Homo sapiens: one gene and its partners. The protein of the gene in region 4 purifies or fractionates together with the protein of the main gene of each other region. This does not show direct contact. Each region holds a gene or a part of one and is shown on either strand. Other genes may lie near its edges.

Evidence for each region.
Region 1: the proteins of SCPEP1 (region 4) and NCR3LG1 purify together in Homo sapiens (affinity purification with mass spectrometry; one large-scale study listed by BioGRID and IntAct). This does not show direct contact.
Region 2: the proteins of SCPEP1 (region 4) and CCDC85C purify together in Homo sapiens (affinity purification with mass spectrometry; one large-scale study listed by BioGRID and IntAct). This does not show direct contact.
Region 3: the proteins of SCPEP1 (region 4) and FURIN purify together in Homo sapiens (affinity purification with mass spectrometry; one large-scale study listed by BioGRID and IntAct). This does not show direct contact.

Annotation. Positions count from the first base shown.
Region 1 is NC_000011.10:17,352,355-17,360,310, reverse strand, and holds part of NCR3LG1 (natural cytotoxicity triggering receptor 3 ligand 1 precursor), read right to left. Parts: exon of another isoform or gene 7,628-7,956; intron 6,847-7,627; exon of another isoform or gene 6,339-6,846; intron 3,661-6,338; coding exon 3,310-3,660; intron 1-3,309. UniProt on the Homo sapiens protein: Triggers NCR3-dependent natural killer cell activation.
Region 2 is NC_000014.9:99,597,701-99,603,525, reverse strand, and holds part of CCDC85C (coiled-coil domain-containing protein 85C), read left to right. Parts: coding exon 1-359; intron 360-5,825. UniProt on the Homo sapiens protein: May play a role in cell-cell adhesion and epithelium development through its interaction with proteins of the beta-catenin family. May play an important role in cortical development, especially in the maintenance of radial glia.
Region 3 is NC_000015.10:90,873,009-90,880,964, reverse strand, and holds part of FURIN (furin isoform 1 preproprotein), read right to left. Parts: exon of another isoform or gene 7,867-7,956; intron 5,384-7,866; 5' UTR 5,225-5,383; coding exon 5,048-5,224; intron 4,711-5,047; coding exon 4,612-4,710; intron 4,504-4,611; coding exon 4,408-4,503; intron 4,070-4,407; coding exon 3,941-4,069; intron 3,831-3,940; coding exon 3,754-3,830; intron 3,439-3,753; coding exon 3,350-3,438; intron 2,834-3,349; coding exon 2,661-2,833; intron 2,202-2,660; coding exon 1,989-2,201; intron 1,522-1,988; coding exon 1,421-1,521; intron 1,295-1,420; coding exon 1,191-1,294; intron 1,099-1,190; coding exon 981-1,098; intron 872-980; coding exon 692-871; intron 275-691; coding exon 150-274; intron 36-149; coding exon 1-35. UniProt on the Homo sapiens protein: Ubiquitous endoprotease within constitutive secretory pathways capable of cleavage at the RX(K/R)R consensus motif. Mediates processing of TGFB1, an essential step in TGF-beta-1 activation.
Region 4 is NC_000017.11:57,002,416-57,009,440, reverse strand, and holds the end of SCPEP1 (retinoid-inducible serine carboxypeptidase precursor), read right to left. Parts: intron 3,269-7,025; coding exon 3,206-3,268; 3' UTR 2,673-3,205; downstream 1-2,672. UniProt on the Homo sapiens protein: May be involved in vascular wall and kidney homeostasis.

The DNA of each region.
Region 1 (7,956 bases), on a different chromosome or scaffold from region 4:
AGACATCTATCTGATAAAGGCTTGTATCCAGAATGTACAAAGGACTCTTAAAACACAACAATTTAAAAAATGAGCCCAGTTAAAAAATAGGCAAACAATCTGAACAAACATCTCATCAAAGAAGACATACAATTCCCAGTACTTTGGGAGGCCGAGACACGCAGATCATTTGAGCCCAGGAGTTCAAGACCAGCCTGGGCAACACAGCAAAACCCTATCTCTACAAAAAATACAAAAATTAGCCAGGCATGGTGATGTGCACCTGTAGTCCTAGCTACTTGGGAGGCTGAAGCCTGGGAGAATCACCTGAGCCTGGGAAGTGAGCTGTAATCACACCACTGCACTCCAGCCTGGACAACCAATGAACACACAAAAAAAGAAGACATACGAATGGCAAGTAAGAATATGAAAAGATGTCCAACATTATATCATTAGGGAACTGCTAATTAAAACAACAAATGAGATACCACTATATACTTATTAAAATGGCTAAAATCTGGGCTGGGTATGGTGGTTCATGCCTGTAATCCCAGTACTTTGGGAAGCTGAGGTGGGCAGATCATCTGAGGTCAGGAGTTCAAGACCAGCCTGGCCAACATGGTGAGACCCCATCTCTACTAAAAATACAAAAATTAGCCAGGCGTGGTGGCGGGCACCTGTAATCCTAGTTACCTGGGAGGCTAAGGCAGGAGAATCGCTTAAACCTGGGAGGTGGAGGTTGCAGTAAGCCAAGGTCACACCACTGCACTCCGGCCTGGGCAACAGAGCAAGACTGTCTCAAAAAAAAAATCTCAAAAAAAAAAAAAAAAGGAATTGCCAAAAAGCACTGTACTCTAGTAGATAAAGTTGTTTCTTATCGGAGTACAGGTTAATAATTAATTCAATAAACAGAGGATGGTGGGTACAGGTTTCTCACTGTTGGAGTGGGAGTTTACAGATGAGCAAGAGAAGGAAACTAGAATGATCTATGTGGTGATGGACTAAAGTTGGAGACATCAGTAAGAACAAATGTTTAATGTAATATAGGTACAGATGGTTACACATAGAAATATTTGTAGATATGTGTATATGCAGAGGTTAGTATGCATACATGTATTTCTTTGCTCTGTTGGCTGAGAGGGTCTAGAATCAATGATACCTCAGCAGCAAAAAGTACACTTACTGTCCAGGTCTTGGTTTCTAAGATCACTTTCCAATAAAAGGAACCAAGGTTTCTTGGAGTATTGGTTGGTTCTAGGACTAGAACCAGGAAATATACAAGAGAGGAAATATACAAGATGAGTCTGGAGCATCTTATAGTGCCAAAATGTAAAAAGTGCTTAAAATCAAACAAAATTCTTGATATGAATTTGCCAAAAATTAAATAAAACAAAAAATAAAATAATAAAACAAAACAAAATCTTACAATGATTGGGGTATGTCAATGTGACACAAGAGCCAAGTGAATGAGCTCCCCGTGGCCAAAGCTGGAAAAATTTGAGAAAAAATAAAGTAGTATTGCATTATAACACAAAGTATAAAATAAATATCCTTGAGTCCTTATTGATATCAATGATTGAATAAAGTCATAAATGGGAGAAAAGAGATAAATCTCCCATGCAGAAGAATTCTTAAAAAAATTATGTAGATACTCCACCTCCAAGGAGGAAGAACATAAGTAACCCCCAACCTTAAGTGTGGGCTGCACAGAGTGACTTCCTTTCAAAGAGTACAGTATGAAAATAGGAGGAAGAGTAACTTTTCAGTAGAGAAACCAGACAAACACTACTTCAACTAGATGGTCAAGGTCAACATCAACAGTCATAAGTCATGTGATTTGATGTGATGAAAATGGCAGTTTACCTCTGCGATGTTCCTCCAAAAACCCATAACCCCAAGTCCAATTATGAGGAAAACAGCAGACAAATCCTAACTTAGTGACATCCTGCAATATACCTGACCAATACCCTCACCAAACTGTCAAGGACATCAAAAATAAGGTCTAAGAAATTGTCACAGCAAAAAGGAGCCTAAGAACATATAACAATTAAATGCAATGTGGTATTCTGACGGGATCCTGGAGCAGGAAAAGGACATTAGGTAAAAACTAAGGAAATATGAATAAATTACACACTTTCATTATAGTAAAATGTCAATATGGGTTCATTAATTATATCAAGGTACCATACGAATACAAGATGTTAATAACAGGGGAAATGGTATGCAGGGCGTGAGTGATATGAGAACTCTCATACTATTTTTGCAATGTTTCTGTAAATCTAAAACTGTCCTTAAAAAAAGTCTATTAATGTCTTTAAAAGCCACTGTTGGCCAGGCATGGTAGTTCATCCCTGTAATGCCAGCACATTGAGAGGCCCGGGCACAAGGATCTCTTGAGGCCAGAAGTTGGAGACGAGCCTGGGCAACACAAGGCCCCATCTCTACAAAAATGTAAAAATTCGCCAGGCATGGTGGCATGCAACCGAGGTCCTAGCTACTCAGGAGGCTGAGGCAGGGGGATCACTTGAGCCCTGGAGTTTGAGGTTACAGTGAGCTATGATTGTGCCATGCTCTCCAGCCTGGGCAACAGAGGGAGACCCTGTCTCCTATGTAGACCCTTTATATAGATATATAAAGCCTAGAAGAACAGTGGCTATATATATACGGCCACTGTCAGTTGGCCGTATATATAGCCACTGTCACTGTTATTCCTCTGTCAGTTGCAGAGGAAGTGAATCCTAATTAATATGCCTCTCACTCCCAAAATTACTACGGACAAAACATTCAAAGTCTTATGTACAATTATGGAGGGCCCATGCTGGGCTGAATTATGTCCTCCTAAAATTCTTATGTCCTCCCAGAATTCCCAGTATCTCTGAATGTGACTGTATTTAGAGATAGGTTCTTTAAAGAGGTAATTAAGTTAAAAATGGGGTTATTAGGATGGGCTCTGATCCAATATGATTGGTATCCTTATAAGAAGAGGAAATTAGGACACAGATATAGGCACAAAGGAAAGACCATGTGAAGACACAGGGAGAAGATGGCCAGAGAAGAGAGGCCTCAGAAGAAACCAATCCTGCTGATGTCTTCATCTCAGACTTCTAGCCTTCCAAAAGTGTGAAAAATAAACATCTGTTGTTTAAAGGCATCCAGTCAATGGTATTTTGTTATGGCAGCCTTAGCAAACTAATACAGCCACCAAGCTCATCCATGTATTATCAGACCATTTTATAATACAGGAAAGTGGAGCTCAAAGAGGTGTGTGGGTTTTGTTGTTGCTAACCCCAACACCATGGGAACTGTAGGGCACTGCCCCGAGACACTCACCCACAACTTCAAGCTGGACTGTTCCCTGTGCCTTCAGAGGGGTGACCACCACCTCACATCGGTACTCTCCTGCTTCCTCCAGCTGGATTCCAGGCAGCCGCAGTGAGGCGTCCCCACTCTTCAGCCTCCATGGAGACACAATGGCTCCAGGTCGGAATGCCTCTTGGTGATCTCCAAAAAATTCAAAGACTTTGACTTCTTTGTCAAACGTCAGACTCTTCCAAAACCAGGTGATACCCATAGACGTGATGTTGAGGGGTTGGGAATAAAAGATATTGCAGAATATGGTGACATTGTCATTCAGGGGTGTGATCTGAGTCCCCCCTGCCATCATCTCTACTTTCAGATCACCTGTGGCAATAAGAGGACACAATGTTCAGTTTACCAATGTATGAACATCTTTTTGAGATGTGCTATGGACTGAATGCTTGAGTCCTCCAAAATTCATATGGAGGCCTGACCCCCAGTGTGATGGTATCTGGAGGCAGGGCCTTTGGGAAGCGATTAGGTCATAAGAGGAAAGTCCTCACGAATGGGATTAGTGCCCTTACAAGAAAAGACATGAGGCCAGGCACGGTGGCTCATGCCTGTAATCCCAGCACTTTGGGAGGCCCAGGCAGGCAGGTCATGAGGTCAGGAGATTGAGACCATCCTGGCTAACATGGTGAAGCCCCATCTCTACTAAAAATACAAAAAATTAGCCAGGCGTGGTGGTGCACACCTGTAATCCCAGCTACTCGGGAGGCTAAGGCAGGAGAATTGCTTGAACCCAGGAGGCAGGGGTTGCAGTGAGCTGAGATCATGCCACTGCACTCCAGCCTGGGTGACAGAGCGACACTCTGTCTCAAAAAAAAAAAAAAAAAAAGAAAGAAAGAAAAGAAAAGAAAAAGACAAGACATGAAGCTGGGCCTGGTGGTTCACACCTATAATCCCAGCACTCCCAGAGTCTGAGGCCAGAGGATCGTTTGAGCCCAGGTGTTCCAGACCAGACTAGGCAATATAATGGGACCTTGTCTCTACAAAAAAATAAAAATAAATTAGCCCAGCATGGTGGTTAGCACTTGTAGTCCCAGCTACTTGGGAGGCTGAGGTGAGAGGATCCCTTGTGCCCAGAAGTTCAAGGCTGCAGTCAGCCGTGATAATGCCATTGCACTCTAGCCCGAGTGACAGAGTGAGACTCTGTCTCAAAAACAAACAAATAAATAAATAAATAAGAAAAGACATGACAGAGAGATATGTCTCTCTCCACCACGTAAAGATACAGCAAGAAGGTATCCTTCTATAAACTAGAAATGAGGCTCTCACCAGAAACCAGATCATCCACACTTTCCTCTTGGACTTCCCAGCCTCCAGAATCATGAGAAATAAATTTCTGTTTAAGCCACACAGTATATATCTGTTATGGTAGCCTGGCAAGACTAAGACAGGACATTTTTCCATTTCATTTATTTAGATTTTAAATTTCTTTCAGCAATATTTTACAGTTTCCAGAGTATATATTTTCTGTTTCTTTCGTTAAATTTACTCATAAGTATTTTATCTTTTGATGCTATTGTAAAGAGAATTTTCTCTTTTTTTTTTGATGTTTTCCTATTTATTTATTTAGAGACAGGGTCTCGCTGTGTCACCCAAGCTGGAGTGCAGTGGTGCTATCACTGCTCACTGCAGCCTCCACCTCCTGGGCTCAAGTGATCCTCCTGTCTCAGCCTCCCAAGTAGTTGGGACTACAGGCACATGCCACCATGCTCAGCTAATTTTTTCATTTTTTGTAGAGATGGAGTCTTACTAAGTTGCCCAGACTGGTCTCTAACTCCTGGGCTCAAGCAATCCTCTCATTGCCTCCTCAAGTATTGGGATTACAGGTATGAGCCACTGCGACTGGCTAGATGTTTTCCATTTTAGAACAGTAGGTTGCTAGCAAGTTTACGCTTATACCTATTCCAACAAAAAGTGCAAGGACAGTTCAAAATATTACATTTGCTATTTCAAAGAAGAGTACAACTCCAAAGAAGTCAGACTCATTACTAACAATGCAGAGCTAGACATCTATATTTAGATAAATGTCAGAAACCGAATTCCCCTTGTTGCCATCAAACATGTCCTTTCATTAGTCACATCCAACATATCTAAATAAAGTTTTCAAAATTAATGTTAACAAAAATGTATCCAAAAACCTGCCAACTTACTCAAAGATTTGTGCAAGTCTATTTTTTAAAATAATACATTAGGGAAACGCGGTGACAAGCTTTCTGTTCTATGTATCAAAGCAAAAACAGACTTGACCTACAAAATGAAGATAGGGTCAACTGTAACCAAAAAAACAGTATGCTTCCCCCTGGTGGCCAACCAAGAAATGGAGAAACCAAGGATATGAAACAGCCAGGCCACCTAGTTGTATTGTCACTCTTAAAAACGAAAAGTGACTACCAAAAAAAAAAAAAAAAAAAAAAAAAAAAGAAGAAGAATTGGGGGGTCGGAGGGAGAAGGGAAAATATCAAAAACACTAACATGTGCTTAAAAGGAATACAAACCTGAGTGCCAGACTACATAAATTTAGAAGATTTAAATCAACAAATCAAAATTTAGAAGGCAAATTTGGGAAACCTCGTCTATTTTCAGAGCGCCCAAGCGCTCACCCAGGACCTCCATGTATTTTCATTTAAAGGTACAGAGTGTAGTACCTTAACAGCTTAACAGCATTCGCCTTTTTCAAGGACTAGATCCTTGGAATTTTCTGCAGTCTTGTTTCCAAGGAAAAGCATTTATGCATTTATCTTTTCAAATCAACTAGTGGTATAACCTACATAGAGAACCTCCAGTTCTAGAGCTCTCCAACTAGGGAGGACTGTTAACTACAGCTTTACAAATTGCTCTTTTCAACTTCATTTCTGAAATAAAACCTAACGTTCTTTAAAACATTTTCTATATCAACAACCTTTAAAGACATTCTCATACAAAGACGGGCTAGAATCTCTTGCATTAAAATCTGACGAATTCCTTTGTATGACTGGATTTTTTTTTTCTTGTACCACTTTAAATTTGCTTCCACGCAGAATAGCAGCCAGGCAAACAGATGCTCCATCCTAAGGTGTAGGAATTTCTTGTAGGCGGAAATGATTTGTTAGGCGAAAGCTTCCGAAACGGTTTTCCATTTCACAGTCTCTTCCGGTGCCAAAGTCCAGCACCAACGCCTGGTTCTGGGGTCCGACCCTCATGCAGCCGCCGCCGCGCTCCTCGTGGCTGGACGAGCCGGAACTAGCTTCCTCCAGGAGCTGCTGCTGCTGCTGCCGTCACTGGGCGCCGCCGCACAGCCAAACGGCGTTCCTCCCTCTCCGCTTCCCTGAGAACTCGCGGCCCTTCTCCACCACCACCAGCATCCGCGGGGACCGAGACCGGACGAAAGTGGCGGGGACCCAAGGCCCCTGAGGAGGGGGCGCCGGGCCCGGGAGGGGGCGCGGGACGGGCATGGGACCGGGTGGGCGCGGCGGCAGCCCACTGGCGCCACTTCGAGCTCGAGGAGACCCAGACTGATAGAGCGCGGAGGCGTTTCCAGACCGCAGCGACAGGCGTTTCCAGACCGCAGTGACAGGCGTTTCAAGTCCGCAGCGCGGAGACAAGCGCAATTTTGGCTTTCCACTTCACCGCCCACACTTCACTCGGAACTGTCTTATTTTCACATTGCTTATTGCAAATGTATAGAAATACTATTCACTCGTTTTTATTTCCACTTCCCTCTCCCATCGGGCAGCCATTCTAAGGTGTTTAACATGTAATTTTTGTTCTCTTTAAGGCTGTATCTTCTGTTTCTCAAACTGTGGAAATGGTATTGCATTGTATGTCCACTGTTTACTTGGCTCTACGCCTTCAACATCCGTTCACGCTGCTCGGCAAGCAGCAAGGGCGTGGTGTGAAGCTGCCGCCAAGGTCTCCACGGTGAGGTCCACACGCGGCTCTCCTCCACCTGCAGTGACTCGGGGCGCCCAGAGCGCGCCTCCGGGATTCCTACATTCCACCTCCACCACCCGGCACCCAGGAGCGTATTTTGGCCAGCCTAGTAAGGGTCAAGCAGCATCTTGTTGTTTAATTGCCATTCTTCTAGTTAGAAATGAGTTTAAATATCTCTACATACGCGTTTCAGCCTTTTAGTCTCCTGTTTAAGTTAACGCAGAACACGCCCATACGAGTTCCCAAAAAAGCAAGAGAACGTTTGAAGGTCACCACAAGATCAAAACACTCCCCTCCCTCTCTCAGTAAAGACCTAACTTAGCAAAGCCAGGAGGACCCACTGATATGCGGATGAATGATTTTTCCAATTTACCGATTCCCTGATTTTCTTCTCTCCTCCGGCCCCTCGGATGATGCGAGAGAGGCGCCAAATACCGAGGCACCAAACGCGCGACATCCAAGGAAGCACCGTTTCCGCTCTCACAGGTGTCGACCCTGCACAGGGCAGGCCTTCAATGTAAACCTGTTGCATCGGGGACTCCGCTTCTCACAAAGGAGGGACGCTTGAAAATAGAGCCCCCAGGCCGGGCGCGGGGGCTCACGCCTGTAATCCCCGCACTTTGGGAGGCCGAGGCGGCTGGATCACTAGGTCAAGGAGACCATCTTGGCTAACACTGTGAAACCCCGTCTCTACTAAAAGTA
Region 2 (5,825 bases), on a different chromosome or scaffold from region 4:
GGAGCTGGTGCTGCTGCTGGACGAGGAGCGCGCGGCACTGGCGGCGACGGGGGCCGCAAGCGGTGGCGGCGGCGGCGGGGGCGGCGCCGGCTCCCGCAGCTCCATCGACAGCCAGGCCAGCCTGAGCGGGCCGCTGTCGGGTGGCGCGCCCGGCGCGGGGGCCCGCGACGTGGGCGACGGCAGCAGTACGTCCAGCGCGGGCAGCGGCGGCAGCCCCGACCACCACCACCACGTCCCACCCCCGCTGCTGCCCCCCGGGCCGCACAAGGCCCCCGACGGCAAGGCAGGAGCCACACGTCGGTCCCTGGACGACTTGTCGGCGCCGCCGCACCACCGCAGCATCCCCAACGGCCTGCACGGTAAGGACTACACGGGCCGGGCAGCGCGGGTCTCCCTGGCTGCAGCCCTTTTCCCAGGCTGCGGCGAGAGGAGGTGGTCCCTGGCTGTCCCACTCATGCGGCCGCCACTCCAGACTCCTCCAGCTGTCATGGATCCTGGGCCAGGGGATCCCGCACTCACCCAAAGTGGGGCTTTGGGCGGTGGTGGGCCGGTTCAGTGGTGGAGCGTCTTTTTGTCCAGCTCAGAACCTGCTGCCGGTCCGGTCCCAGAAAAGTTTCTAGCGGGTGTAGTTGCCAAAATTAGGGTCTGTCACTGCTGGGCTGGCGGTGGGCGCCTCATCCCAGCCTTGGAAATCCTTGCCTAGTAGCGGGAAGTTCTAAACAGCAAAGGATACAAGGCCCCTTGAGCGCAAGTGAATTTCCCCTCTTGCAGCAACAGGTGTCCTCCAAACCAAGCAGCGTCCACGTGTGTGCGGTGGCTGGAGTTCTGCAGTGGGGTGTGGGGATTGGGAAGGTGCACAGGCAGCCGCTTGAGACCCAGAGGCAGTTGGGGAGAGGCCTGGGGCTCAGAGCCTTTCTTGTTTGCCATAAATTCCGCCCTTCTAGTCCTGGGACCTTTCTCAGCCGAGACTCTAAGACTTTCCCGAGGGAGATGTATTTGGAACGGATTCTAGCTTTTCTCCTCTGTGTGCCTCAGTTTCTTTGTCTGTGAAATGGAGATGATGACCTCTGCCTCGTGGGTTTGAGGTGGAGATAAACCTTCTGAAGGGATTTATAAACTGTTGATCGCCTTACAGGAAGTGCCGTGGTCATCCGTGACCAGGGTGTGGGTGGGAGGAACTTTGGCCTCTGTCAGCTTCTGTCTTCTACGCCCATGTTACTGCTGCGCCCAGTGCAGAGGGTGGCCCCAGCTTGGGGCTGTGGGAGCTTGCAGCCTGCTCCCTCTCCCAGCCCCCTGCTCAGCCCTTCTGCTCCCTGCCAGCTTTCTCCTCCTCGCTGGTGGATCCGGGGCCTCCCTGTTCTTCCACGTTTTTTGGTAGCTTGGCTTCCAGTTCTGCTGGTAGTTGCAACTGCCTGAACTTTTTGCCTGAAGGTGGAGAATGAACAGCTCTTTCTGGTTCCCTTTAAAGCCTTTCCTAATTCAGAGAAAGTGTGTCTAAGCCTGCAATAACTGCCCTCCCCAGAACCCCTCAGCCTGAGCTGGGGAGGGACGTTTTCTCCTTAGTTTGGTGGCCAAGTGGCCTCTGCAGACGTGTTGGGGTGGGGGCTGGGGTGGGAGACATACCCATGGAGGTGGGGCAGGGGCAGTGCAGCATGTTTTTCCTTTATTTACCATCCTGAGCCTGTGGGTTCAAGGCAGGACTGGGTTTAGAGGGATATTTTGTTACTGATTAGCAATCTATGGCTACAACTCAGGTTTCTCTTTGTAACACTGTATCCACCCCCACCTCCCACCACAGGCTGCTTCAGGGCAGTGGGAGTAGCGCAAAGTTAGGTGGTTTAATTTGCTGGGGCTGTTCAGAGCACCTCAGCCCCTTTGATTTTGCCGTCCTGGGGGCTTTTGAGGGGTCAGTTATCTGGGCCTCGGTTTCCCTAAGTGCAGTCCAAAGAGCAGATTGCTGCAGTCTCGTGGCTGGAAAGTGAAATGTTTCTGGTTTTCAGCTGCGTCATCAATGACACTTGGCAAGAGTGCCTCTCTGCAGGACACTGGAGGGCTGGAGTGTTTAGAGCATACTTGCAGGAAAGGCTCTGTCGAGTTTTGGGCAAGGAGATGCGGCCCCAGTCTGGCTCAGCATGTCAGCTGCGACAGTGAATAATACAGGAGTGGAGGACTAGGCTACACTGAGTTTTCCACCCCACTGGGGGTCAGTGGGAGGTTGAAGTATAGGGTTTCCCACAGAACCCATCCTCCCCCAAGCCCACTTAGCACAGGACTGCTGCAAATGTTGTGGCAGCAAACCTTGCTTTGGGGTGAAATGAAAATTCAGCATTATTATTACAAATTTCGGTTACAGATGGAATTATTATTATTTAGTTTTGTCTCTTAAAGCCATGTGTGGCCTTGGGATGTGGTCCCACTAATGTAAATGGAAGGCTTGGAAACCAGGAAAGGCCCTTCTCTTAGAAACTGAGCTGTTCTTTCTTTCTTTTTTCCCTTTTTTCGAGACAGGGTGTCACTCTGTCACCCAGGCTAGAGTGCAATGGAACACTCATGGCTCACTACAGCCTCAACCTCCCAGGCTTAAGTGATCCTCCCAGCTCAGCCTCCCAAGTAGCTGTGATTAGAGCCATGAGCCACCTCACCTGGTGAAACTGGGCTTTTCTATTCTGGGACTTGTAACTTTAAATTGAGCAAAGATTGGGCCTGAGCTGAGGGAGATAATGAGTCTCTGTCTGGGTGGTGTCTAAAGTGGGGTCAGACACCAGGCTTGCGCCTTATGTGTTTGGTCTTTGCTTCTTCTCACAGGAACCCTGGGGAAGCAGTATTATCCCCATTTGACAGACAAGCAAGTGGAGGCTTAGAGGGGTTCCTAGCCTTGTCTGGGAAGGTGGCTGACATTGGAAGTACCTGTCCTGGGTGGGTTTGCTGCCATGATCATCTCGTGTTCAGGCCTTGGGTCTGAATCTGTTGTGCCCTTGGTCTGTTGTCATGTTTGCTGTTACTGTTAATCAGGGGACACTGGTGACTCCCTATTCTTGATTCCTGACCCAGGTTTGCCCTCTTTCTCCCATGCTGGGAAGTGTCACTTCCTTATCAGTGACCATTGAGCAGATGGCTGATAACCCCGTTACCCAGAGGCTCAGGGTGACTTGAGTTTGAATCTCAGCTCCTCCATGTATACTGGGCAAGTTATTAACTGGCCAAGCCTCTCTGTGCTCCTCTTCTGTAAGATGGACAGAACCCAGAGTGCCCCATTATTCACACAAGGTTGAGTGAGGTCAGGATCTACACACAGTAGGTTTCTCCTGTTGTTAGGGTCCTTGGGGCTCTCCCAACAGACCTCAGTTTCCTCTTCAAAAGTGCTTGCTGCTTAGACAGCTCACCTGAATGTTTGCATCTGAGCCTCTTGTGTGGCAGCACTTGCTGATGAGCTAGTGAGGACAGTGGCCCTGCTGTCCTTTCTGGGGAGCTGGTGGCAGTTGCAGCCCTGCTGGGTGCCCTGGGCAGACTCTAGTGGCTGAGGTGGGAGGTGGCCCATCTGTATGCAAGGCAGCCCTGGCTGAGGCTGGCCTGGTGGGCCTGTGTATTGTGTATGTACATGCAAATAGGCTTTTCTCCTTGGCTGCTTATTTATTTATTTATTATTTATTTAGAGACAGGGTCTCTCTGGTCACCCAGGCTAGAGTGCAATGGCACCATCATGGCTCGCGGCAACCTCAACCTCCTGGGCTCAAGTAATCCTCTTGCCTCGGCCTCCTGGGATGTGTGCTACCATGCCCAGATAATTTTTGAATTTTTTGTAGAGACTGGATCTCACTATGTTGCCCAGGCTGGTCTCGAACACCTGGGTTCAAGCAGTCCTCCTGCCTTGGCCTCCCAAAGTGTTGGGATTACAGACGTGAGCCACTGCACCTGGCCTTGGCTGCCTTTGGTAGAGGTCTGGTCTGGGCTGACTGGACTTGGGACTGGGCTGTGCGTTGCTCTAGTCCAGTGTGGCACACTGAGACAGGTAAACCCCAACACCAGAAAGTCAGGTTCTCCTTCATGAACTGATAGGATTTTCAAACAAAAGAATTTTCAGTTCTTTTTCCAGCTGCCCCTCCGCCTGTCTCCTGTGCCCCACGACAGGCACCATGCCCCCCTCCTGCCCATTGCCAGGCATTTCCTTCCCTCCCCTGATAACCTGCTCCTCCACGGTCCACTCCCCTTTAGCCAACCTGGAGGAACTAGGATTCTAGCAAGCCTGTGCATGAGCCCCATTTACTTTTTAAAGTTCGGATTAAAATTTTGAGCTTCTCAAAATGAGACAGGTTTGTTCTCCTGCTTGTGTTTTTGTTGGTTTAAGAGGGAGGATGGAACGGGGTGGTCTGGGCCTTTAGAAAAAGACAGAGCACGCTAACTCTGAATAGGTCTTTTCTGTGCAGCAGCTCGGCTAATAAGGCTGCTTTTCCTAAACCCAGCCAAGCTCAGGAACAAAGGTCAGTGAAGACAATGGGGTGGGTTAGATAAGCCTTTCCCCCTCCTTCCCCAGCCTGTCCCAAGGGATCCATCAATGGCCTTGGGATGCTGGGCCTCAGAAAGGAGGGCTGGCCTTGAGAGGCTCCCAGGCAGGTGACCCAGGGGTGGGTAAACTGTGCCCAGTGCTTCACAGTTTGCCACAAACAGCATCCCAGTCCCAATTCCATTCTGTTCAGAGCTTCCAAATGGTCCCAGGAGGGAGACCTTAGCATCTCCATATCTTAGATGGGGAAATCAGGGCTTGGAGTGGTGGTGCGGTGACTTGCTCTAGGTCCTGTGGGGCTGATTGGGGGGCCTGGGATGCGTCTTGGGTCTCCTGTGTCAGAATTCTGAGCCCATGGCCCTGTGCCTGCTGCCCAGAGAGTTCCAGGGGAGCGGTGACCTCTGCCACAGAGACAGGGCACCTCCTCCCAGGATGCCAGGCCCGGGGCCTCATTCCTGTCTCCCTGTGTCCTGGCATGGAGGAGTGGGGGAAGGCGGTGCAGGGTGGGCCACCTTCCCTACGATGGCTGTGGCTCCCCATCTCTTGGTTTCTCCTTCCCTCACTTCTCTGCACGAGGCTGGCTTGCCACCGCAGCAGTCGCCCCACCAGACCTCTTGCTCAGGCCTGGCCTCTGAGTTCCCAGGACCAGCACGTGATACAGAAGGAAATCAGTGGTTGCTCCTAATCTGTTTTCCGCCGGTGGGGATTTTCCAATCCATGCTTGTTGCCTTCATTTGCGCAGAGAATTGGAAGTCTGTTAAGCAAGTTCCTGAGCCTCCATGGGCCTCTGTTTTCTCTTTTGCCAAGTGGGAAAATGTTACTAACCTTTGGGTTGAGGGAGGAGGGTGTGTAGTGAGTGATACGTGTAGCCTCTGGCGGGTGGCAGCCCCTGATGTGCGAAGGCCCCATCTCCCGCTGCAGCGCTCGGCACCCCGCATGCCGAGGGGCATGTAGCCCTCTGGTTAGTGATCTGCCTCCAGGGTCAGAGAGCCCTGGGTGAATCTTGGCTTTGCCACCTGCTTTATGGCCGTGGCAGCTTACTGAACCTCTAAGCCTCAGTTTCTTCATCTATATCCTGAGGCTAATAATGTCTCGATCCTAGAACTGGGCCTTAAAGGATGGGTTCCATGTCCTTTCATTATTTCCTGGCCTCTGCGGATTTGCCTTCCCTGGGTGGGAGTGGGAGATCCCCTGACACACGCTGGTACCCAGTGTAGGGTCGGAGGCAGCTGAGTCCTCATCTAGTTGAATGGAGGGAGCCAGCATTCCAGGCAGGAATAAGAATGGCTAAGGTTTGGAAGTGGGGTCTGGAGCATGGCATTGA
Region 3 (7,956 bases), on a different chromosome or scaffold from region 4:
GCCATAGAGTACGAGGGTGAACTTGGTCAGCGTCCCTGTTCCAGAGCGGGGAGGAGGCAAGAGTTAAGACAGTGCTGGCACCACACCCAGTGCTCGAGATCCTGCCAGCCCTCCACCTCGTACCCCTACCCCTCAAGTGCCCCCAGTACCATAGTTGTTGGCTTCGCTGGTGTTTTCAATCTCTAGGACCCACTCGCCAGAGGGATCCTCATCCCAGGAATGAGTTGTCATGAAGGCCCAGTCATTAAACCCATCTGCGGAGTAGTCATGTGGCCTGGGGAGGGGAGTGCACACAGCCCTGAGGCCTCTGCGGGACCCCAAGCCAGGGACATCTAACCCACAGCACATGGGCCACACACCCTTCCCCCACGCAGACCAACCCCATGGGGCCAGAAGTGCCTGCTGGCTTGGCTGTTTCTCAGTGAGCCAGACGTGCTCAACTGGGGGATTCTAGAAAGGTACACAGGCACCGCACAAGGTGGGGCACACTACTGACATTAAATGGTTGCAAGCCAGGGATTCCTGCAACATGGGACAGTCCCACAGGACAAAATTGTCCCTCCCAAAATGCCAAGAGTGCCCCACTGAGTAGCACTCAGTGCCCCCTGGGCCGTGTGAGCGAGCAAAGGCAAGCACGCGGGCTGTGAGAGGCGGCGGCGCTGGGCAGGGCGGGCAGGGACAGAGCAAGCACCTGGCTGCCAGCAGGGTGGAGCGGGTGCCCATGGGGCTGACCAGGTGGATGGCCAGGTCGCCACGGCGATTATAGGACAGGGTGAGCCGCGCCTGAGCGTGCTCCAGCCGAGTGATGTGGTTGGGCTCGCCCAGGCACGCGGTCACGGTCTTCCGCACCTCGAGCCGTTTCCCGATGTCTCTGTGCAGGAGAGCACCATGATGGTCAGCCTGGCCCAGAGGGACCAGCGGGCACCCCCTGCGACTCTCAGGTCCCACTGGCCCCCTCCCAGCCTGGGTCCAGCCCTCACTTGGGCTCGGTGAGGATGTCGATGATGCACTTCCGCTGGGGGGCCACTGTGGTCCAATTCTGGGCCAGGGCCACCATGGCGCCTGCGTCCAAAAGCCCGTAGCCATATGAGTGGCTCACTGTGGGGACAGGGAAGGTAGGGTCAGCTGTCAGGCACAGAGTGCCTTCTACCTAACTCCACATCCAGCCTGCCGGGCCAGCCTGCCCTCACCTTTCCGGCCCACACCATTGGTGGCCCAGTCGTTGGCATTGAGGTGGGCTGGCTTCGAGGTCTGTACCACCAGGTGTTGCATGTCCCGCCATGTGAGGTTCTTACTGCAAAGAAGGAAGGGAGAGGCTGGGGATCAGTCTTTTTTGGGAGCAGCTCTCCAGCTGCCCTAAGGGCTGCCCTACAGAGAGTGCTGGTAGGGACAGGGTTGCCGCTGGCCCCCACCCACTTACTTGGCCTCCAGGGTGAGAGCAATGATGCCGGCTGCTAAGGGGGCAGAGGCTGAGGTGCCCGTGTGAGACTCCGTGCACTTCTGCCGCAAGTCAGTCGTCACCTGCCAGGAAGAGAATCATATTGGGGCCTGTGATGGGTGGAGGGGGCTAGAGGAGCCACCTGCCTACCCTCCCTCTGCATACAGGCCCTGGGCACCACAGATGGTATGGGGAGCCAGGGCCAAGAACCCCAGGTCCCAGCTGCTGCCTTGCTAACTTGCCGTGGACATGCTAATGACGAGCCCCTCCTGGGCCTCATTTTCCAAAGGAATAAGGGGGTTCAACTAGAGGGTGGAGATGAATAAGAACAAAGTATGTTTTTAGAGAGAGTCTAGGCTTTTCAAAGTCTTCAGAGATGGCTCCATGGCCTCCAAGAACCTACAGAGCCCCAGAGTTCATGTTGCATGATGCCTGAGCCACTATCACCCAGCCACATGGGGGTGGAGGCAGACAGCCTCCAAAAGAGGGTGCTGGACAGAGCCAGCCAGCAGCCCCATCTCCCCAGCCCCCACCCCCAGGTAAGACTCACGATCTGCTTCTCATTCTGGTTGCCACTGCTGTAGGTCGTGGCCAGTGTGGACGAGCAGGCCTCGCTGTACCACGGCACGTTGCCAAACTGCGTGGCGCTGCTGATGGACAGCGTGTAGATACTGTTGGTGTAGCCGTCGCAGTTGCAGCTGTCATGTTCCCGGCCCCCGTTCCCCGAGGCCCAGACAAAGATGGAGCCCAGCCCCCCTCGGCCCTGTGGACAGAGTGGGCTGGGGTCATTCAAGATTGGGACTTGAGGGAGGGCTGGCAGGAGGACACTGCTGGAAAACTGGGAAGGCTGGAGCCTCATTCTCTGGGAACCTCCTGTCCCCTGTGAGATCCCTGGTGGATCAAGTATGTATCCAAATATGTCTATCTAGGCACACAAAAAATCAGACCAAGAGGCCAAGGCGGGAGGATCGCTTGAGGCCAGGAGTTTGAGACCAGCCTGGGTAACACAGCAAGACCTCATTTCTAAAAAAAATGTGTTTTTTAATTAGGCAAGTCCAAGTGGTATATGCACTCTACTCTTCTTCTGTCCCTTAATGTTTCAATAAACATGCTTTGTGTAAAGTTAAACATGAGAATAAATAAAACAAACCAAAAAACACAAGATAGGTACGGAAGACAGCACCCAACCTGCCCGCAGGGGCTGGACAGATCCCCACCTCACCTGGCTAACCCCACGGAAGAAGGCCTCCTCGGCGAGGCGGGCTGGCCCATCCACTGTCTTGCCGTCATCCTCGGGGCCCCAGCTGGCACTGTAGATGTGGATGTGGTTGGGGTTCAGGCCCAGCGAGCGTGCCTCCACTGCATCTGTCACCTCGCCATCCAGCATGCGCACCCCTGGCCGTGAAGGGGGGGCACGAAGAGGGATGCTGCATGGGTCCAGCTGTCAGGGCCCCCACCCCAAGGAGCACACCCAGCCCTGCACCCCAGGGGATGAGTAAGGGAAGGGTGGAGGCTGATGCTGAGAAACCCTGAACCCCCAACTACCTGTTTGCCTCTGCCTTTCAAAGACAAGACCCAGAGAAGGAAAAAGAGAACACCTCCTGCCCCCAACCACACATTCAGGACTAGAAAGAGTCTCTGGTTCCCAAAAGAGCCTGGTGATCAAGGATCTGCCACGTGAGGACTCACAGTGGGTCGTGAGGATTTCAGGAGACTCCTGCTAGGAAACCCTCACTCCACAGGGGTCCAGCTCTTTCAGTCTTTGACCCTTTGGGAACCCTCCATGGAACAGCCACGTGATCAAAGGATCCACAGTGGGAAAGTGGCAGGCATTGGCCAGATGGGAAGTGGGCGGGAAAAATTCCACTGAAGGGCCCTCCTGAAGACAGGGTGGCCCAGGCCCACACTCACCTCCAATGCGGGCGTTGTAGGCCACACCTACACCACAGACACCGTTGTTGGCCACCGCAGCCACTTCCCCCGCACACCGTGTGCCGTGCCTGCCAGGGCCAAGCACGTAGCATGAGTAGAACAAATGGGGTGAACAGGGCCCGGCAGATGTGGCCTGAGGAGCACGAGGGATCCGCACATCCGACACCCATCATCCCCTGAGTACCCAGCCCCCATCTCCCACACTCCACTGGGCCTGTGGCCATCTCCACTCTGACCGAGCCCTCCCTCAGAGCCCCAGGTGGGCCAGGACTGTGGGAAAAGCCTCAGCCTTTTAGGCAAGGCACATCTCACCCAGGCTCAGCCCTGTTCCTTAGTGGAAGAAAGGAGAAGGGAGGCAGAGACCGGGGCCTGCCACTTCTTACCTGTTGTCATTCATCTGTGTGTACCGAGGCTGGGGGTCAGGGTCCTGGTCATTGACATCAAAACTGGCCCCAGGATCCTAAGAAGGATTTGGCCACCATCAGGAGAAGGCTGACCTCACTGATAGAACAAGACAGCCTCTAGACACACCTCAGCAGGGATCACGGCCTCCCTCCCCGACTTCCTCACATAATTGCCTGCCAAGTCCGGGTGGTTCTTCTCGATGCCATCGTCCAGAATGGAGACCACAATGCCGTGCCCTGTGTAGCCCTGCGCCCAGGCCGCCTTCACATTCAGGTCCCGCTGAGTGACACCAGACTGTGGAGACACCCACCCCATCACTTATGAGACATGATTGGTTTTGTGAGGCTAGGAGCATCTTGAAGAATCCCTTTGCCCCCGTAAAACCTCCTCCTGTACCATCCCTGCTCCTGAAAGGCCGCCACTGGCTGTCTGGACTCCATGGGAATGTAGAGGACTCTGGGAGGGCCACCCCCAGGCTTGCTTATTAGGATGGGCCAAGGAGAGACTGCCCAGCAGGAGGAAAGGAAACGAATCAGAGGAGGCCTCGAAGACAGCCTCCTCCATCCAAGAGCTCATAGTGGGTGGATGGTGCATCTGGGGAGGAGGTCCCAGCAGCGAAGAAGGCCACGTACCAGGTACCACTGCTGAGGAAACTTGGGGTCTGTGGGCTCCTGGTACACGTCCCGTTTAGTCCGTCGCTTTGCCACCTGCTGTTCCAGCCACTGTACCTGTGGGGGAGTGAGGGAGAGATGGTGTGGGTGGAGCAGGAGGCGAGAGGGGCTCCTGAGAGCAGGAGGGGGAGGGTGGCAGCAGGAGGGGGCTGGGGCCACACTCACTTGAGGCTCCCTCTGCAGCCGGCTGTGCCGCGGGCGGTGAGGCGACAGGGACCGCTTCGTCACTCCTCGATGCCAGAAGTGGTAATAGTCCCCGAAGATCTGCAATAGAGCAGGGAGACTGAGCTGGGCTTTCCATCTGTCAGTCCCCGGGAGGCGGGGGACGGGGGTGGACAACGGCTTCATGGGAGGCTCGCCACGGTCGGGGGTGCGGGGCATCTGCTCCCTGTCCGGGACCCAGCAAAATGCGGGGACCATGAGGACTCACTCTCACTGGGATATGCTGCTTGCCTGAACCACCTGTGCTTTGCTCATGGCCACCCAGAACATGCCGGCTACCCAGATGCCCCTGAGCAAACAAGGCCAACAGCTCCTGCTCCCAGAATCCCTGTCTTCTCTGGTCCCACCCCCTGGCAGTGTCCTGTGGGGGAACACCTACCTGGCCCAGGTTGAGGAACCCATGCTTCCGTGCCACACTGTTGGCCACCGCTGGGCCTCCAGGGATGCGCACAGCCCACGTGTTGGTGAAGACCTTCTGGCCCTGAGCATCAGCTGCTAGCAGGACCAAGGTTCCTGTTGCTGCTACCACCCATAGCAACCAGGGCCTCAGCTCCATGGGGGGGACAGGTGGCTGGGACCCTGGAGCGCCCGTCTCCTTGGCCTGGTCACAGGGCCTCGGCTCCCAGGTGCCTGCTCACTGCCTGTGGCCCGGGGCTGACTGGTGGGGGCATGGGGCCGAGACGGGCAGGGCTCGGGAGGGTGAAGAGTGCCGACCCTGAGAGGAACAAGAGGGGAAAAGGGGAGAGAGGGTCAGTTCCTCCCCTGCTACGCACTAAAGCTGCCCTGCCCACCCCAAGTTTCAATTGGGGCCTGAAATGAGATCTGGGGGAGAAGGGTAAAAAAATTAGTCCTCCCCAGAAGAAATCTAGCCCCCAAGGCCAGCCACATAGATGGACAGATGGATGCCCTCACAATCCCCCCCAATCCTTTCTCCATGCAAGAATATAAGAAATGTAACAGAAGGGCCAGGCATGGTGGCTCACTTCTGTCATCCAGCACTTTGGGAGGCTGAGGCGGGTGGATCACCTGAGGTCAGGAGTTCGAGGCCAGCCTGGCCAACATGGTGCAACCTCGTCTCTACTAAAAATACAAACATGAGCCAAGTGTGGTGGCGGGTGCTTGTAGTGCCAGCGACTTGGGAGGCTGAGGCACAAGAATTGCTTGAGCCCAGGAGGTGGAGGTTGCAGTGAGCCAAGATCGCGCCACTGCATTCCCAGTCTGTGCGACAGAACGATACTCCCTCTCAAAAAAAAAAAAAAAAAAAAAAGTGTAACAGAAGAAGCAGGATGAAGACTATCAAGCCCTGAGTCACTCAAAATCAGAAACAACAAATGAATAAATGTTCACCATGATCAAGGTAAAGAAGATGCATTATAAAGCAGTATGTACACATAATCCCATTTTATTTTTTAAAAACTATTTATACATGTATATTTATACAAACTAAAGCGAAATCTGGAAGGATACACACGCTAAAAAATGTTAACGGTGGTTCTCTCAAGATGGTGAGAATTACAAGTAATTGTTATTTTCTTCTTTGTGTCACTGTATTCTCCAAATCACCTAGGTATGTTTTACATGGGAATAAGATGTTGGCTTTTCAAGGTTCTTAAATGAATGGCATCTATACAACTCACTAGGGTTTCCTAGTTCAGCAAAGCAGATTCAGCCATAGGGAGTTATTCGCAAAGCCCCACAGCTCCTAGGAAGAAAATGGGTGACCCTAAATGGGATGGTGCTTTTAGGGGCCATGTCCTGAGGGGGTGCGGGGGTGGAGATCACAGAGGCTTCACCTCCCTCTATGGCTGAGATGGCCGCTATCAGCAAAGTCAGGGCCCCAGACTCGTTTTTACAGTTTCCTGGGGAACGCTGGGGCCGCCAAGCCCTGCCCTGCCTGGGCCTGGAGGCCCCCAGCTGCCCCCTTGCTTGCTCCACGCCCACCAGCCTTGCGTAATCCGAGCCCAGGCAGCCAGGGCAAACACTGGCTGCTGAGCCAGGAGCGCCAAGGTGAGACTGAATCAATAGTCCGAGTGTTGTTTTTCCTCCTTCAGCAAACAGACGGCGGGACCTCTCTCTGCCCGGGGCCACATAACTGTCCCCACATAGTGCCCCTGACTAGCCAGAAGCCAAGGCCCTGGAGGAAGGGGGGGAAGCTAGGGGAGGTCCCAGCAGTGCTGCTGGGGGTATCCCATATCAGTGCCAAGCTCCCTGAGCAGCAGCAGGGCCCTGGATGCCCTTAGCACTTCCATAGCCAAGGCCACTCTGCCGGATACCAAAAGGAAGGCACCCCAGCTCACGTAGGCCCTGGGGAGCTAGAGAGGCAGGCTCACCACAGAAAACTCCTTGCTTCTCCAGAAGCTGCCCTTAGACACAACCGGCCTCCCTGACTGCTGCAGTCCCACCCTGCAGGCTGGGGGTACTCCACACACAATTCCTGGAGTATTTTCAGTTTGGACCAAAATAACCTGACAGCTGATGGCAGGAGACATCTACAATACAGCTCCTGCACATCCCTGCGGGCAGACTCCACAGGACTTCCAGGGCAGGCCTCGGAACCACAGCCCCATGGTGCTTTGGGTGGTTGGTTCCAGAAAGCTGGCCTGATCAATGGCTGGGCAGCTAGGCGCCCCAGCCCTAGGGGATGGAAGGACCGCCCCCCCCACCCCAAGTCCCTCATTTAACAGAGGATGTGGGACCCTGGGAGCAGAGCCATATAGGAACGGGGCCTCATCTCTCTCCTCTCTCTTGCTGCCACAACAGCTGCCTCTTGGGTCCAGATGTCATGCAACCACCCCCCTGCCCCCACCACCACCAACCACCGTGCTGTGAGTCCTGCTGGAGCCCCCAAATCGAGGCTGGGTTCATCTGGGTCTAGCCCAGATTCCAGCACACTGTAGATGGAGCCGCAGCTGTTTGGCGTTAAAAGTGATTAACCAACTATTTAATTACCTTGCAGCACTCGGAAAGAAAGCAGGCGTCAGGCGCAACTGAACAGTCCCCCCAAAGAAAGAGGGCCAGCCTCCCTCTATCCAACAACCCCAGCCATGGTGAGGGGTGGGGATGGCTTCCAGAAAATGAGACCCCCACAGACGGCTCTGCCACAGCATGTGGGACAAGGGAGGATCCCCGAAAAGAGTAAGAACTGAAAACAATGAATGAATGGGTTTCTCCCCACCCCCATCCCAGACTCTGACTCACCCTCTAGTCCCAGTTTGTCTCAAACCTGGAGGCTTGCTGTATTTCTCATGGTCTTGTTTCACATGGGACTCTGTTCCAGGCTGTGGCCAG
Region 4 (7,025 bases):
CCATCCCCGCCGCCATGGCCACTTTGTTCATGAGTCTACAGGAATGGCTGAAGGAGGCTAATAGCCACAGAATGGGTCATCTACCCACCTGATTATTAAAATCTTCCCTTGCCCTAGTTGAGTATTCAGATGGAAAACAATGATCTTCATACTCGGCCATTCAGAGATCTAATCTCATACCTCTTCCTCAGAGCTTCTTGTCATCAATTTTCTAATCAAGTTTTTTTTCTTTTTGAGACAAGGTCTCACCCTGTCACTCAGGCTGGAGTACAAATATGGCTCGCTGTAGCCTCAACCAACCTGCCAGGCTCAAGTGATTCTCCTACCTCAGCCTCCTACACAGCTGAAACCACAGAGGTGCACCAACATGCTGAGTTAATGTTTTTATTTTCTGTAGATACAGGGTGTTATCATCTTGCTCAAGCTGGTCTTGAACTCCTGGACTCAAGGGATTCTCCCACCTCAGCCTCTCAAAGTGCTGGTATTATAGGCATGAACCACTGTGCCCAGCCTTCTAATCAAGTTTCTTCCAAGTCCCTAAATACCCAGCTAAATCATGAATTGGTGCACTTATTCTTCTGTTCATTTCCCCTTCCAGGGAAAGTGAAGAGCTGAGTGCACTGTTCCAAGTTCTGTCCACTGGGAGGATTTCTCTTCACACCATCTTTCAGGGCTGTCCTGGAGTGTGGCCGTGGTGCCATAGCGGTCCACATTCAGGTGATGCATGCATACTGTGGAGCCCCGTCTGTAAATCAAGCCTGAGAGTTGTCTTCCTTTGTCAACTGATCACAGGGATTCCCTAGGAAGGTAGGGGTGTGGGTTGAGAGAGAATGTTATACAGCAGGAATAAGAGCCCTGGGCAAGTCTAGGAATTTACTACAAGATCTTAGGACAAGACATGATTAACCTGCCCGGACAGCAATGGAAGGGCGGCTTCTAATGGCCAAAAAGGTTTGAGGTCCCCTAGCTTCATCTGTGCAGGTGACTCATCTCAATGTTCAGAATTACATTTCTTCTCAATCAATGCACTAACTTTTAACAGAAGAGACTCTGTGAGGTTGGGAATTCAACTTGCTTTATGATTCACTGCTTTGTTGGATGGTTCACCAAGACTCACAAGGCTCAGTAGCAGGTTATACTAATAGCTAACATTTTTGTAACAAAAGATGCATATCAAAAGCGGCAGGTAAAAACGATACACATGGGTGATGTCCAGGGGTATCCAGCACAGGCTTCTAAGGTTCTTGCTTTCCATGGGCACACTGGAGTTCTTGCCAACAGTGAACCATAGGGACATGTGTAGTCTCTGTCCCAGGAGCCTGTTTTTAGTCTCAGGGTCTGAAGGGGTTAGTCACGTAGACATAACCTGCTGTTAACTGTTTCCTCACAGTCTGCAGGAATAAGCTTTGGGTTTGTTATTTTTTTTAATTAATTAATTTATTTATTTATTTTTGGGACAGAGTCTTGCTCTGTTGCCCAGGCTGGAGTGCAGTGGCGCGATCTCGGCTCACTGCAAGCACTGCCTCCCGGGTTCACGCCATTCTCCTGCCTCAGCCTCCCAACTAGCTGGGACTACAGGTGCCCGCCACCACGCCTGGCTAATTTTGTGTGTGTGTGTGTGTAGAGATGGGGTTTCACCGTGTTAGCCAGGATGGTCTCGATCTCCTGACCTCGTGATCTGCCCGCCTTGGCCTCCCGAAGTGCTGGGATTACAGGCTGGAGCCACCGTGCCTGGCTGTTTTTTTAAATCTCAGCCTTTGGCCAGGCTTGGTGACTCATGCCTGTAATCCCAGCACTTTGGGAGCCCAAGGCAGGTGGATTGCTAGAGCCTGGGAGTTCGAGACCAGCCTGGGCCACATAGTGAGACTCCAACTCTACGAAAAAATTTTAAAAATTAGCTGGATGTGATGGTGCTTGCCTGTGGTACTAGCTACTTGGGAGGCTGGGGCAGGAGGATCATTTGAGGCATGATTGTGCCACTGCACTCTAGCCTGGGTCACAGAGTCTCAATAAATAAATAAATAAAATCTCAGCCCTGCAACTACAAGAGGTGATATTTCTTTCAGACAGTCCTAGAAGCTGTTAGATCCCCTATGCAGATTTTTTTTTCTTTTTGAGATGGGGTCTCTGTCACCCAGGCTGGAGTGAGTGGCTTGATCATGGCTCACTGCAACATCAACCTCCCTGGCTCAAGTGATCCTCCTGCCTCAGCCTCCTGAGTAGCTGGGACTACAGGTGTGTGCCACCATGCTCGGCTAATGTTTTTATTTTTTTTGTAGAAATGGGGTCTCCCTATGTTGCCCAGGCTGTTGTTGAACTCCTGGGCTCAAGCATTCCTCCTGCCTCGACCTCCCAAAGTGCTGGGTTTATAGGTGTGAGCCACGGCATCAAACCTCCTTATGTAGATCTTGAGCTATGAATAAAAAGTTAAAAGTCCTGAGCTAATTATTTTGATTTTAAGGAAATGTGGCAATCCTCTGACTAAATAATTACACTTTTATGAATTTATTCTAAGAAAATAAGGAGGTACAAAAAAATCTAACTATCAGGGTGAATCAACAGAGCACTATGTATAATAGCAACAAACTAGAAATTATTATACTTGTCGGAAACAACTGGGAATTTTGTAAATAAACTAGAGTACAACCATAAAGTAGAATGCTCCACAGCCATTAAAAATGTTAGAGAAGAACATTTATTGACATGAAAAGGTGTTTCAGATATACTGATATGTCAAACAAATAGTAAAACAACATAGAGTAATGATTCATTTTGGTAAAAAATATATATGTATATATAGAAAAAAAAATTCTGCAAGGACATATGCTAAATTGGTAACAGTGCTTACCCCTGGGAAGGGGGTATACAGATGTTGATTTACTCTTTGGGTACCTGTATTTCCCAGTTTTTCTATAAATCACATCATTTGCTTCTGTCATAAGAAAAAATAATATCTATTATCATCCTTTATTTTGATCAAAACAAATCAATTTTTTAAAAAATCTTAGGTTTTTTTAAGAAGCAGAAATAATTTCCAAATTGCCTCCAGAGACAATGATTTTATCCTCTGCAGAAGCTGGTCAGAACCTTCTTGATCACAGCCCCAGTTAGATACAGGGAAGAATGGCGCTTCCTACAGCTTCAGCGGCCTCAGCTCAGCTCTGTGCCCCAAGGCCAAACCAGCTCATCTCCAGCCCCATCCATCCTATTCTTGCTGAGTCACCAGTCTCATCATCTTCAGAGCCATGTCCCCTTGGTCAGAAGGAACCTAGAAAAAAACAACATCTGAGTTAGTGCTCCTGGTGCTATTCCTGGGGCTGGGGTCAGAGGCAACATCCTGAAACCTTGCTCCCAAAAGGGAGCCAGCTCTGTGACAGCAACCTGTGCAGACACCTGGGCACATCCCTGAGAGAGGGTCCTTCCTGAAAATGACTCCTGCACTGGATGAAAGCTCTTCTGGGCCCTGACTGGGCTGGGTGGCAGGGACCTGGAGAAGTCAGCATTTAAGACAAGAACCTTCTACTCCATTTGGAGCTGATCTGTTGATTTCTTGGTAAGGGTCATGCTAATGATACTAGACCTAGCCTGTTCAAGGAAGAAGGAAGATTCTAAACATTTTAAAGGCATCTGTCTAGAAGGGATCCCGGATTGAGAATAGAGAAATGGCTGAGAAGGGAGCTCACAGCAGAGAGCCGCAAATAATAAAAACAAACAGGGCCCTTTGGGTGGCATCCGATTTTCGCAGTTATTCAACTTTCTTTTGTTTTCCCTCAGATTTTTAGAATAAGTCCTTTAAAATTTCCTTCCCACACAGCATCAAAAGGGGGAAGGGCAGAGGCCTCAGTTTCTCCCTACACAGAAGGGGTTGGAGTATATGGTCTCCCCGTTATGTAATTCCCTGGCTCCATGATTCTCTATGGCACACCCATCCTTGACTCTTCTGCCAAGAGTCCCCAGGAGGCACAGGCAAGGTGGGTTATCCTAAAATGTCATTTAATCAATGAAAGGGGAAGTGGTTTGGGGACGACTTAACAACAGTCTCCAAGGGCTATTTTAAGCCTGTCCCCAACTGATCTGTTGTTCTATATGTGACAAACCAACAGGAAATGGGCCTGAACTCTAGTATACAGAGCGCGTGGTTGGCTTGTTCCATGCCTTCCTACCAGCCTCGTCAGGGACTTCTCTCTAGGGCAGGCTGAGCATCCCTCATTGGAAAATCCAAAATGCTCCACAATTCCAGCCTTTTTGAGTGCCACCATGAGGCCACAAGTGGAACATTTCACACCTGCCCCATGGGCGGCTGCATTCAAAATGCAGGCGCACAACACACAGTTTATTTCTGCATCCCCAAGGGGGTTACAGTACAGTAACCTTTTAATCAAAACACAGCATTGTAGGTAGAGACCGAAAGCTGCTGTTGCTTGCTGTTGCTGTTGTCTAGCAGCTGACACAGGTATTCTGGTCATGCTACTGTGCTGCTCAGTTACTCTGAACACACAACTTTTCCACTGTATTAATGGTATGTTGTATTTCTTACTGTGAAGTACTTATGTGTGACTACATGCAAGAAAAAGATTGCTTATCGGCAGCATATAAATTTGGAGTCAGAAATGATATGATGCCTAACAACCACAGATTGGTTGAAGAGCCATGGGTGGCTGAAATAGCCACCCTTTGCTCTCTAATAACTCAGTGCACACAAACTTTGCTTCATGCACAAAATTATTTAAAATATTGTACGAAAGTACCTTCGGTCTATGTGTATAAGGTGTATATGAAACATAAATGAATTCCATTGCCTAGACTTGGGTCCCATCCCCAAGATATCTCATTATGGATATGCAAATATTCCAAAATAAAAAAAAAATTAAAAATCTGAAACATTTCTGGTTCCAAACATCTCAGATAAGGGGTACTCAACCTGTAACAGTGCTTGCTCTAAGACGTTCTAATTTTCTTTCTTTTAGTCAATATTGAAGGTACTCAGATCCTGAGAGCCATAAATAATGCCCTCTCCCTCTGTGCCCTGCTGCCTTGTTTGTTCTCCCTTTAGATTAAGTCTATTTGTTTATTTATTGATTTACTTTTTGAGACAGAGTCTCACTCTGTCACCCAAGCTTTCAGGCTCAATCAATCCTCCCACCTCACTCAGCCTCCAGAGCAGCTGAGACCACAGGCAGGCGCCACCGCGCCCAGTTGATTTTTGTTCTTTTTTGAGACAGAGTCTCACTCTGTTGCCCAGGCTGGAGTGCAGTGGCGCTATCTCGCCAGCTGGATGCAATGGCACTATCTTGGCTCACTGCAACCTCTGCCTCCCAGGTTCAAGCGATTCTCCTGCCTCAGCCTCCTGAGTAGCTGGGATTACAGGTGCCCACCATCATGCCCAGCTAATTTTTGTATTTTTAGTAAAGATAGGGTTTCTCCATGTTAGCCAAGCTGGTCTCATACTCCTGACCTCAGGTGATCCACCTGCCTTCGCCTCCCAAAATGCTGGGATTACAGGTGTCAGCCACCATACCCAGCCTAGATTAAGTGTCTTTTGAGAGTGGGCTGCTTTCTCTGGCTTCTTAAAGGAAGCTACTGTCTCTTCTCCTCACTACTCATTCATTTTCTCCAGTCTTTCCAATCTGGCTTCTGAGCTTGCCACCTCACCAAAATATCTCACCAACGCAGGTGCCAAGGACATCGGTGTAAGCACATCATCACTCACGTTTCAGCCCTTCCCCTGAGTTCTCACTTAGCACTGCGGGCCCCTCCCTGCTTTGGGGATGCCACGCATCCCTGGTCTCCCTTCTCACTTATCTGGCTGCTCCTTTCTCAGTCTCATTTGTAGGCTCTTCTTCTGCCTTCTGTTCTATAGGCAATTCAAACTCAGCTTGTGCAAATTCCCTCCATCGCAAACCACAATGCTGGAGCAGAAACCTGCAAGCCACCCTTCAGTTCTTTTCTACCCCAAATGATTACCAAGTCCTGCCAATTTTCCCTTCTTTACACTTCACCAAATCCATCTACTTTCCTCCTTTCTGGATTTACCTGACAGCCTCATTGATTGGTCTTTGGCCCCAGGCTTGCCCCATGCCCTCTACTGCTAGAATGGTATTTCTTGGACAAATCTGTTAATTTCACTCCTTTGCTTAAAACCCCTGCTTGGTGCCCTACTGTCTGAACTCCTTAGAGTGGTATGAAAATTCCCCCTCTGCAGCCACCTCCCTCCAGTGTCCATTCCAAGTCCTCGCTGTCTGAGGCTCCTGTGGACCTTGTATTCACTGCTCTCCATGCTCCCCACCTCCTCCTCTTTCCTTAAATCACTCCTACGCATCACGTGGGGCACAATCTTCCAGATCTGCATGCCTGGGCAGGGCACCCTTCCCTGGGCCAAGCCAGCTGTTGACAGTCTCCTTGCCTGTCTGTCTCTAGACCACAAGCTCCTTGAGGACAGGGACTGGGCACCACTCACCCTTGTGCTCGCAGTCTCTAGTGCTAATAGCGGAATTTTGTTAGGAAACTCAAAACACTCCCAAGCCCTAAGTATTTCTTTTTTAATTTTTCTTTTTTTTTTTTTTTTTGAGACAGGGTCTCGCTCTGTCACCCAGGCTGGAGTGCAGTGGCATGATCTTGGCTCACTATAGCTTCTAACTTTCAGGCTCAATCAATCTGCCCACCTCACTCAGCCTCCTGAGCAGCTGAGACCACAGGCATGCGCCACCGTGCCCGGTTGATTTTTGTTCTTTTTTGAGACAGAGTCTCACTCTGTTGCCCAGGCTGGAGTGCAGTGGTGCTATCTCGGCTCACTGCAGCCTCCACCTCCCGGGTTCAAGTGATTCTCGTGCTTCAGCCTCCCAAGTAGCTGGGATTACAGACATGTGCTACCACACCTGGTAAATTTTTGTAGAGACAGGGTTTCGCCACGTTGCGAAGGCTGGTCTTGAACTCTTGAGCTCAAGCGATCCACCCGTCTCAGCCTCCCAAAGTGCTGGGATTGCAGGCATGAGCCTCTGTGCCTGGCCTAATTTTCATATTTTTTG